Linked DNA regions of Homo sapiens. Each later gene encodes a partner of the first gene's protein in a complex. Each region holds a gene or a part of one and is shown in the gene's direction. Other genes may lie near its edges. The genes, in order: GNAI3, RGS8 and CASR.

The links.
Region 2: the proteins of GNAI3 (region 1) and RGS8 are in contact, whole or in part, in a crystal structure (PDB 2ODE), measured with the Homo sapiens proteins. Residues at the interface, in NP_006487.1 of Homo sapiens: Glu65, Gln68, Ser75, Val179, Lys180, Thr181, Thr182, Gly183, Ile184, Val185, Gln204, Ser206, Glu207, Lys209, Lys210, His213, Ala235, Glu236, Asp237, Glu238; in NP_001095920.1 of Homo sapiens: Thr76, Glu77, Phe78, Ser79, Glu81, Asn82, Ala117, Pro118, Glu120, Val121, Asn122, Ile123, Asp124, Phe125, Gln126, Arg128, Leu153, Lys156, Asp157, Ser158, Arg161, Arg164.
Region 3: the proteins of GNAI3 (region 1) and CASR are in contact, whole or in part, in a cryo-EM structure (PDB 8SZH), measured with the Homo sapiens proteins. Residues at the interface, in NP_006487.1 of Homo sapiens: Ala31, Lys32, Gln304, Glu308, Lys314, Asp315, Thr316, Lys317, Glu318, Ile319, Tyr320, Thr321, Phe334, Asp337, Ala338, Thr340, Asp341, Ile343, Ile344, Lys345, Asn347, Leu348, Glu350, Cys351, Gly352, Leu353, Tyr354; in NP_000379.3 of Homo sapiens: Lys644, Ala645, Asn647, Arg701, Val702, Val705, Phe706, Ala708, Lys709, Pro711, Thr712, Arg716, Trp719, Phe801, Ile869, Val872, Arg873, Thr876, Ala877, Ala880, Phe881, Lys882, Val883, Ala884, Ala885, Arg886.

Annotation. Positions count from the first base shown.
Region 1 is NC_000001.11:109,551,538-109,555,361, forward strand, and holds part of GNAI3 (guanine nucleotide-binding protein G(i) subunit alpha-3), read left to right. Parts: intron 1-3,824. UniProt on the Homo sapiens protein: Heterotrimeric guanine nucleotide-binding proteins (G proteins) function as transducers downstream of G protein-coupled receptors (GPCRs) in numerous signaling cascades.
Region 2 is NC_000001.11:182,677,802-182,681,625, reverse strand, and holds part of RGS8 (regulator of G-protein signaling 8), read left to right. Parts: intron 1-3,824. UniProt on the Homo sapiens protein: Regulates G protein-coupled receptor signaling cascades, including signaling via muscarinic acetylcholine receptor CHRM2 and dopamine receptor DRD2.
Region 3 is NC_000003.12:122,182,137-122,185,736, forward strand, and holds the start of CASR (extracellular calcium-sensing receptor isoform 2 precursor), read left to right. Parts: upstream 1-1,531; 5' UTR 1,532-1,676; intron 1,677-2,190; exon of another isoform or gene 2,191-2,393; intron 2,394-3,600. UniProt on the Homo sapiens protein: G-protein-coupled receptor that senses changes in the extracellular concentration of calcium ions and plays a key role in maintaining calcium homeostasis.

The DNA of each region.
Region 1 (3,824 bases):
ATCCTAATTCCCATTTACTAGTTATAGCCTTGGGAAAGTTAATTTCTCTTGGCCTCAGTTTTCTTATCTTTAAAATGGAGAAAATAGAGCTACTCCTAGGATTGCTGTGAGGATTAAATATGGTAATAATGTAAAGCAGAACACAGCTTGGCACATAGTACTAGCTCCATGAAGATTAGCTATTCTTATTAAGTCAAAATGAATGTTACAGATTGTAGGTATTATGGAAATTATACCAAATTAAGCAGCTAGTGTGGGCCAGATTATTTACAGACACTTCAGTATTGTAATTCTTCCTTTGATAACCTTTGGTTTGAATTTCATTTAGATGTTCTTGGAAAGGGCTGGGCGTGGTGGCTCCTGGCTGTAATCCCATCACTTTGGGAGGCCGAGGCTGGTGGATCACCTGAGGTCAGGAGTTCGAGACCAGCCTGGCCAACATGGCGAAACCCCATCTCTACTAAAAGTACAAAAATTAGCCGGGCGTGGTGGTGTGCACCTGTAGTCCCAGCTACTTGGGAGGCTGAGGCAGGAGAATCGCTTGAACCCGGGAGGTGGAGGTTGCAGTGAGCAGAGATGACGCCACTGCACTCTAGCCTGGGTGACAAAGTGAGACTCTTTGTCTCAAAAAAAAAAAAAATAAAGTGTTCTTGGGAAGATCTTGGTATATCAAATTAGTGTTTAATTATGACATTCTATTGAAAAAATACCATGCAAAGCTTCCCAACCAATGTTCCAGTGCTTAGGATGGCATATAGGTGTGCTGTTTACAAATTTTTTATAGCATTGAAATTTTAAATCATTTTTATAAGTTCAAACTTTTACAACAGTTGAAATTACATTTGAACATCTTTGGTATGATTTCCTCTTGTATAATTCATGAATTTGGTAATTTGGTTATTTACTATTTAAACAATTAGAGATGGGGGTCTCATTATGTTGCCCAGGCTGGTCTCAAATGCTTGGCCTCATGTGATTCTCCCATCTCAGCCTCCCAAAGTGCTGGGATTACCAGTGTGAGCCACTGTGCCTACCCTACCATGAATTTGGTAATTTGAAAAAATTTTATTTGGTATAAATACTAAATTTATACCAATTTAATATTTAATATCATTTGTAATACTTTGTATTTTTTTCATGCCATAATTTCATAATAAGAAATTTTGTGTGTGCGGGTTTTGTTTTTGTTTTTTTTTGACCCCAGGGCAAGCAAGAAAATTTTTTTTCACCAAGCTCTTTCAGCTCACCCCAATGAGCCTTACAAATATTTTTAATGTGTGCCATCATGTGACAAAGGTTGGGAAGCACTGGTATAATGGATAAGAGCACTGCTTTTGGATTCACACAAAACTGAATTTAAGTTCTACCTCCACTTATTAGCTCTGAGACCCAGAGCAAGTAACTTAACCATAAGAATAATAATTTTTACATATGTAAAGCAGAGATGATGTTTCATAATATGAAATGAGATAATGCATGTAAAATGCTTCACATTAGTGCCTAGCAAATAAAAAATAGTAAGTGGTCACTTCTATTGATGATGATGATCGTGAGAATTACCATTTTAGCTACTTTTTTCAGAGGTTTTTCAGACAGCTGTTTTATTATTTTTCATATTAATATACTATTTTCAAAGATCTTCAAAGAATTTTAATATCCTTTTGTGGTGAAAGGAATTAAATGTTAGTCCTTTTTTTTTACTCATCACTGTACTAATGAAGATACTTAGTTTTGTAAATTATTGAATTATCTGCTCTCTGTATTTCTGTTTCTTGATAGTTTCCTTTAGCAGGTTCTGAGAAAACATAAAAAAAAACTTTGTTCTTTGGGATTTGCTGGTGGTAGTATGGCAAAAAGCCAGTTGCATGCAGAGAACTGGAATCATCTAATTTACTTAAACTCTATATTATACAGTTAATTATATTTAAATTGCTGCATATTATTGGCTGAATATGCTTATTATTGAGAATAAGACTGCCCTTTGGTAAACATGCCATTACATTATATCCTCCTATGGGATTATACCCTTTATTATGTTTGCCATTTGCTTGGGATAAGGTTCATGGCCAGTTACATTTCATGTGAGGATGCATCTGTGTTTCGGGGAAAAAAAGCTTTGTGTTTTATAAGCATGTATCATTCTTTGTGTCTTTTATTTAAATGCATTAGTCACTTTTTTAACATTTCAATAGGTTTTTGGGGAACAGGTTATGTTTGGTTACGTGAATAAGTTTAGTGGCAATTTCTGAGATTTTGGTGCACCCATCACCTGAGCAGTCTACACTGTACCCAATGTATAGTCCTTTATCCCTCACCACCTTCCCACCCTTTCCCCCGAGTCCCCAAAGTCCGTTGTATCATTCTTAGGCCTTTGCATCCTCATAGCTTAGCATCCACTTACAAGTGAGAACGTACGATGTTTGGTTTTCCATTCCTGAGTTACTTCACTTAGAGTAATCGTCTCCAGTTCCATCCAGGTTGCTGCAGATGCCATTATTTCATTCCTTTTTATGGCTGAGTAGTGTTCCATGGGTGTAGAGGGGTGTGTGTGTGTGTGTGTGTGTATATCACATTTTCTTTATCCACTCGTTGATTGATGGGCATTTGGGCTGGTTCCATATTTTTGCCATTGTGAATTGTGCTGCTATAAACATGCGTATGCAAGTATCTTTTTTGTATAATGGCTTCTTTCCTCAGGGTAGATACTCAGGAGTGAGATTGGTGCATCAAATGGTAGATATACTTTTAGTTCTTTAAGGAACCTACACACTGTTTCCCATAGTGGTTGTACTAGTTTACATTCCCACCAACAGCGTGAAGGTGTTCCCTTTTCATCACATCCACACCAACATCTATTTTTTTTTTATTATGGCCATTATTGCAGGAGTAAGGTGGTATCACATTGTAGTTTTGATTTGTAGTTCCTGATAATTAGTGATGTTGAGCATGTTTTCGTAAGTTTGCTGGCCATTTGTATATCTTGTGAGAATTGTCTATTCAAGTCCTTAGCCCACTTTTTGATGGGATTGTTTTTTTCGTGCTGATTTGATTTCCTTGTAGATTCTGGATATTAGTCCTTTGTCAGATGTATAGATTGTGAAGATTTTCTCCCACTCTGGGTTGTCTGTACTCTGCTGATTTCTTTTGTTGCTCAGAAGCTTTTTAGTTTAGTTGAGTCCCATTTATTTATTTTTATTTTTGTCTTTGCATTTGCTTTTGGGTTCTTGGTTGTGAAGTCTTTGCCTAAGCCAATGGCTAGAAGGGTTTTTCCAATGTTATCTTCTAGAATTTTTATGGTTTTGGGTCTTAGATTTAAGTCAGTAGCCCTATACACCAACAGCAACCAAGCTGAGAATCAAATCAAGAACTCAACCTTTTACAGTAGCTGCAAACAAAAAACAAACAAACAAACAATACTTAGGAATATACTTGACCAAGAAGGTGAAACACCTCTACAAGGAAAACTACAAAACACGGCTGACAGAAATCATAGATGATACAAACAAATGGAAACACGTCCCATGCTCATGGATGGGTAGAATCAATATTGTGAAAATGACCATACTGCCAAAAGCATATCTACAAATTCAATGCAATTCCCATTAAAGTACCACCATCATTCTTCACAGAACTAGAAAAAACAATCCTAAAATTCATGTGGACCCAAAAAAGAGCCCGTATAGCCAAAGCAAGACTAAGCAAAAAGAACAAACCTAGAGGCATTAGATTACCTGACTTCGAACTATACTGTAAGGCCATAATCACCAAAACATCATGGTACTGGTGTAAAAACAGGCATATAGACTAATGGAACAGAATAGAGA
Region 2 (3,824 bases), about 73 Mb from region 1:
GAGAACTGTCCCCAGAGTCCCAGACTCCACTCCACTATTCCCTGCTGCTGTTGCTGTGGCCGAACCCCACTCCTGGGTCTGATGGCTGTGGATTCTCCTTGCTGCGTGATTCTAGGTGTCTGGCTAGAATGGAGCTAGGAGTGAGGACATGAAAGCCATTGCCTGAAGTCATTAAAAATGGAGGATTAGAAAGAGCTTATTTTATATTCAGAGAAGGGGGAGAGTGCTGAAGCTGCTCTCTGCCCACAGCTGTAGACTCTGATGGCAAATGGTAAAGCTTTTGTTACTATCTGAGAAGGGGAAGAGATTGATAACCAGCACCCTGGCACTGAGCGATAGGAGGGAAAGCCACATTTCAGTTGTGACAGGGTTTCATGCTTGCCTCTCAGCTCCATGGCTTTGAAAACTACATCCCTCTGCTTCTCCACCTTTGGCCCTCCTGTCCCATCCATGCAGCCTCCACACCTCTCCCCACTGGGTGTGGGGCTTCTGCCTTCTCGGACTCTGATGTTCTCCCTGTGACTCAATGTTTTCATAAGCCTAAGTGATTTACAGCCCATGTTTACTTATATATTTCACTGAATTCTTGCAGTAACACAGGAAGTGGGCATTGCCTTAGTAATTCTGATTTCAGAGATGAGAAGGCAAGGTCCTAAGCCAAGGAGAGCCTGCCATAAAGGGGCAGAGTTGGAGCTTGAACCCTTGTTGCTGACCCTGGAGCCTGTGCCACTCTGTGACTCCACACTGTCTCTGTTGGCCAGCATCCTACACCAAACACAGTTTCCTCACCTACCTGCTGGGGGGCTCGTGTCAGCTCAACATACATTAACTGAGCCTTTTCCTGTTGCCGGGGACCGTGCTACATTTTGGAGGTGTAGAGATGAAAAATACGTTTTTTACCTAGGCAATGTACATAGGGAATGTAATGTACCCATGCCTGGGACCTTGCTTGGCACATAGGAGACACTTAAATGTTAGTCAGATGAATGAATGAATGAATGAACCCATGCTTTCTGCCCTTGATGAACTTAGGATCTGGTTAGGAGAAGAGAGTTGCAGGTACCTAGCTATGCCAGGTGCTGACATAGAGAAGTGTGCCTGGAAGCCATAGGAGCACAGAGGGCATTTCCTGAACTTGGGTGTTCAGGTGAGGCTTTTGGAGAAGTCGTCCTGAAGTGCAGCTTGAGGATGAGCAGGACTCACTCAGATCAAGGACATTCTGGGCAGAGGAAATGAAATAAAGGAGGCCCAAAGCCATGGAACCCTGTGATATGTGCTCATGATTATGGAAAGTGTAGAGTTATTGGGGCCTGAAGGACAAGCCAGGGAAGTGGTAGGTGACTCTCAAGGTAGCCAGACCTTGGGGTGTTTGTGTATCAGGATCCTTCTTAAGCTGGAACTTTATCCCTAGAGTAGGAGGGCTTAAAGGTTTTGAGGAGAAGGAAATGCAGTCATGTTTGTGACTAACCAGGTGATTATGGCTGCAGATTGGAGCTGAATTTAAGAAAATAGGCTGTCTCATGGGGACCAGAGACTGTGAGGACGTGAACCAGGACCGTAAGGACATGAGCCAGAGCAGTGGTAGCGAGGATGGAGGGGAGGAGACAGATTTGAAAACTATGAAAGATTTAATCAGTATGATTTGGTAATTGGTTGTCGACAGGAGATGAGAGAAAGGGAGTTGCCTGTAATTACTTTCCTATTTCTGGCTTGAGTTACTCAGTAGATGGTGGTGCCAGAAACTGAGATCAGCAATTCCAGAGGAAGCCAAGGTTTATATGTGTGTGTAGGGGGTGCGGGTGGAGTGGGAGGTGGGCGTGGTGAGGGCGGCGGATAAAATGGGCCAAGAAAAGATGGGAATATGATGTGTCCATTATTTAGATATATTTGCAGTTGTTAGGCCTGTAGGATATCTGAGGGGTATGTTCAGCAACCCAAGGACTATCGGAGTCTACATGATTGGGAGCTATTGGTGTCTACATGATGGGAGAGGGGCTAGAGTTGGACAAAAATATTTAGAAATGGTCAATATACCCAATGTAGTTAGGACTATGGGCAAGGATGAGATTGCCCAAGTAGCATGCAAGGTGAGAGAGGCAGGAAGCTAAGATTAGAGAGGAAGGAAAATACCAGTGTTTATGGGGTGGACAGAGGAGGAGGAGCCAGCAAAGGAGACCAAGGGGAAGGGCAGCCAGGGGAGTGTAATGTTGGGAAGTCAAAAGAGAGAGATCCAAGAAATGAATGGTCACCATGGCAAAGGCAGCAAAGAGGTTCATAAAGACAAGTACTGGAACATTTCCACTTGAACCTCACAGTATGGAGGCTGTGTTTCGGGGGAATGGTGGGAATGGAAGCCAAATGGCAAAGGGGTTAGGAGGGGATAGGAAGTGAGGAAGCAGAGGAGACTCTTTCAAGCAGTTTTGCTGATAAAAGGAGAAACACCCAAGGGTGTTTCCCAAGGGGAATTTTTTTAAATAAAAGAGATGAACATTGTTTTTGTTAAGTGCAGAATAACATGTGAGAAAGAGAAAATAAAGATAGAGTTCATAAAGGAGGGTCCATGGGAAAGAATAGGTGGAAGGCCACAGGAGGAAGAATTCACCTTAAATAGACACATCTGAGGGCAGCTGGAAGGAGGTCAGGGTGTGTGTAATATGGATAGATTAGTAGGAGTTGTTAGTAAGTGAAAAGAGGTCCAGGTATTTCATACCTGAGGCCTTGATGATCTTGATGGGACAGGAGATCAGGTTGTGAGGGTGTGAAGAGTTGTGTATGTTGCATAAGCTCTCTCTCTCCACTCTACCTTCCTGCCCTTCAGCTGCCCTCACAGAAACTAGTTGGCCACTGGAAAGGTCATTTGTAAAACCTGAGTTCAGTGTTTAAGGCTGTGATCATAGTAGGAACAGAGAAGGGCTGTGGAGGTGAGCAAACAGGCCATCATTTCTCTCCTTGTCCAGTGTTAACATATGGCCCTGAATTCTGCCTGTATAGATGGGCAGCTCAGCAGTGGGAACAAAGGATGTGGCTGGATTCCATCCAGGAACTCTGAGTTGGAGTCCTGGCTATGCCTCTAAGAAATGTGACATTGGACAAAGTCTTCAAAGTTTAGTTTCTGTAGGTGATGTCTAGGAGTTATACCCACTCTAAACCTCTGTGAATTTTAGCACCTGCTCCCTAGGCATAAAATAATAGACTTTTCTTAAAATGGATTTATTCAAGGGGAGAAAAACTTACAATGGAAAATGTACAGAAAATCAAGTTCCATTCAAATAGTCTCCTCCTTCTGTATTTCAGTTTTCTTGTACTTTGTTGGCTTATTTTACTGAAGCCACACATTGTAGGCACAATTTCAAATATACACAAGTCAAGAGAACAGAACAATGAGTCCCTACGTACCTACCACCCAGCTTCCCACCCAAGATGATGTTGAAGCTGTTCATGATAGCATATCATTTCAACTATAAATATTTCAGAGTATACCTCTAAAAGATAAGGTCTCTTAAAAAAGCCTCAATATCAAAATTGCACTAAAAAATAACGATAATGTCTTAATACTATTAAATATCTAATCAGTGTTTAGATTTTCTCAATTGCACTGTATTATTTTTAAAATTTTACATTTGAATCAGGATTCAACACAAAGTCCATGTATTACATTTGGCTGAGGTGTTTCTTCAGCTTTATTTTTAACCCTGATGGCCATTGTCTGCGAGGCAGCACTGTGTAATCCTCTAACATCTCCTGATTTTGTTTCATTTCCTTTGCTGTTGCTATACCATTTCATTTGAGGAGACCTAAGGAAGAATCGCAGGCTTAGACACCAA
Region 3 (3,600 bases), on another chromosome or scaffold:
GTTACAGAGGGGTGCAAAGACAAATACTACAAAAATGATACTCCTTCCTTGACATAATCCATAGGAACAAAAGAAGTAAAAAGGGCATATCTTTTTTCACCTTGTGATCCACTGTTATCTAATTGTATTGTCTGTGTACCACCCAATACCATGCTTCCAATCTCTACTGGAAGATGTACACACTGGGACACACTGGTAAAGTGATCAAGCACCAGGACTGTAAGTCAAGCTGATCAGGTTCAGCTCTTGGCTCTGCCAACTCCTAGCCACCCAACCCTAAATACCTGAAACTGTATGCATCAGTTTCTTCGTCTTTAAAATGGAAGCAATAATAGATCTTCAGAGTAATACTTTCTTAAAGATAGTGCCCAAATTTGGACATTATGCCCAGGTGTAATCCGACCAGTGAAGAGCATCAGTTCAGCCTAAGATTGCAGCCTCATTCGGGTTTTGAACTGAACTCGTTCAGCCTTTGGGTGTTCACAAAGCTGTGCTTGTAGCCAACTAAAATAAAATCTAAGGTATTTTGATAGGCACCACTACTGAGCCACATCCTCCATTACTTACATTGCTGGGTGTTTCGGCCTGAGGGAGGACTTCACATTTATTCCTATTAACCAGATTTTGCCCCCTTCACTGGTGCTTTAGCATTTGCTCAGCTCCTTCTCCTACCCTGTATTTGAGGGAAAGGAAGCCAAATGGGCAGAACTTGGCCATAATGAGGATGTGTTTGACATGCTGGATTTGAGTCTGTGTTCCATTGAAGAAAAGAAATGGAAACTTTGTTGAGTATCCATTCTATACAGGGCACTTTCCTTGACTATTTCATTTAACACTCCAAGGACCCCCTGAGGTAGATGTTATCGCCATTTTGCAGAGAAGAAATCTGCATTTTTATTTGAAGTTCTTAAACATGGTAAACGACCCAATTTTCTGCTTTTTGCTTAACAGTATTTTGCAAACATTTTATCATGTTACTTCATGTTTTCCTATTTTTTTTTTGCTTTATAAATAAATACATACTCCCTCCTTATTCTAAAAAGAATTTGAAGCACTTCTGTCTTGATGTTTATCATTTTAATGGTTGTATAATGTCCCATTAAGTCACCCTAATTTATTCAACAAATTTCCTACTGTTGACAGTTTGGCTCTGTTTGCTTTTTGTGGTTTTTAAAATTATTTTCTGTAACAAATGATCCTGCTAAAAAAAAAATCTCCGCACGAATATTATTTTGTTCTGGAAATTTCCGCAAGGGTGGAATACTGCATTAAAGGGGATAATATTTTTGGTGTTTCTTTATAGAGCCTAGCAAATTGCCCACCCAAAGGAGTATGCTTTATTTGAGAGTAAAAAGCCAAAAACAAACAAACACATACAAAAAAACTGGTTTTCTACAAAAGAAATTAATTTTCCACTTATTCATAAAATATTCTAGTGCTGTGATGGGTGGCAGGCACCGTGCCAGGGGCTAGGGACAAGGATAAGCAAGGCCAGGTCCGGGCCTCCAAGCAGCGCGCTGTGGAGTCGGGTAGAGTAGACCAAGTGCAACAGGCACCTGGCTGCAGCCAGGAAGGACCGCACGCCCTTTCGCGCAGGAGAGTGGAAGGAGGGAGCTGTTTGCCAGCACCGAGGTCTTGCGGCACAGGCAACGCTTGACCTGAGTCTTGCAGAATGAGTAAGAGTTTGGGCACGCGATTTGTATTTATTTTACTGTGAATCTCTGGCCTTATATCAGAAAAAAAAAAATTGTGCCACCCTCGGCACAGAGAACGTTGGTGGCGTCGTAAGCGCCCTAAGCTTCTTTCCATCGCCAAGGAGTAGGGGTCAGGGAAGAGGACAGCGGGAACAGGATTTGAGAGCCGGGAACCCCTGGCTCGGCACGGGAGAGGGCAGGAGAGGACCTAAGCGCGGGGCTCGCCGTCTGCTGGGGACCCGAGCCGGCCTGTGGCCCTCGGGGAACCGAAGACGCGCCCTCAGCGACCCTGAAGAGTCAGCTAAGCTCTCTGCGGGCTAAGGAGACGGTGAAGGAACCGGGACTAACTGGGGTAGGGGTTAGAAGGCAGCCCGCGAGTGGGCTACGAGGGGAGCTGGGCTCGGCAGTTGGGGACCCCGAGGGGGCAAGCGGGCGGGGAGCAGGAGAGGGGCGGAGCTCCGGGGCCGGGGCCGGGGCCGCAGCGGCCGCCCAGAGGGTCTGCGGGGGCTGCTGTGGCCGGACCCGAAGGCGGGCGCCGGGAGCGCAGCGAGCCAGACGCGCCTCTCCAAGACCGTGACCTTGGCATAGGGAGCGGGGCTGCGCGCAGTCCTGAGATCAGACCAGAGCTCATCCTCGTGGAGACCCACGGCCGAGGGGCCGGAGCTGCCTCTGTGCGAGGGAGCCCTGGCCGCGGCGCAGGTAGGACCGGGGAACCCAAGGAGGGCGGGAGGAAAGCGCCCCTGGTGGGGGAGGGGCCGTGGCGGGGTCTGGGGGCCAAGGGCTCCGGGCCGAACGAGGGGCACACGCCGGAGCAGCTCCAGCCTGGGAGCATTGGGCGTGAACGTGGGGGAAAGTAGGGACCAGATTACAGGATCAAGGCTTTCCCCGGCTCAGAACTGGATTGTTCAGTGCCCCTAGAAGGGGCAGCGGGTCGCCCACGCGAATGAACGGGAGCGCGCACCAAAACGCCTGCTGTTGGTAGTTTCTTGTGCCTCTGCCTTGTTTCTGCCTGTGATATAGTCAGAAAGGACTCGCTTGCCACGTGTTAACAAGGGGACAGGTAGCTTTTACAGAGTGTATGAATATGGAGGGGAGGGCCACAGAGTCAGCTCTGGCCCCAGGGGCCGTCAGTGCCCCCACAGGATTCCTGGTCCAAGCTACCAGCTGTCTTGGGAACTTTGCTTCAGTGGCATCAAATTAGATTGTCAGTTCCCGGGGCCTGAGCACCAGCCTCCATGTGTATTTCCTGGGGAGAAAAAAAAAAGGCATACCAGACTGATGGAGTCTTATCATTATTTTAACATTATAGCTTTCAATAGATAACATGCATATGTTTCTTTTTTTAAGTCAAATAATACAAACATTTATCTTCTACAGGCAATGCGTGCACTAGCATGTGTGTCTATTGCTGTCTCCTTTCTACACCCATAGCCTTTCCCACTCTACGTGTTCTGTCGCCGTCTTTTGATTCTTTATCCAGAAAATGATGTCACCACCACTGCCCACATCCCTTAATCTCCAGTGTTCCTCCTTGCAACGCCTCTCTTGTCCTCAAATATTTTTCACAAGGTGGTCCTCAGGGTAGGGAGCCTACTAACGAGAAGACATTTCGTTTACTTGCTTCAATTATCCCAGAGATTTGAAGAAAAGGCACATTGGGGAAGAGTCCATGTCAAGTTCTAAACACACTTATCTTTCCCCTTAAACTGGATCTTCCAAGTGCAGTTTAGGTAGTCTGTTACTGAGAGAAATAATGCAGGCTGTTTTCTGAAATGCTCTGGATTTCCAGAACTTAACACCACAGTAGTTCCTATTCCTTAAAACAGAACTTCATCAGTCACACCTTGCTGTTGCTTTTCCCATCTCCACTCCAGGATTCCCTAACTGGCATGCCTAGGATTTTTCC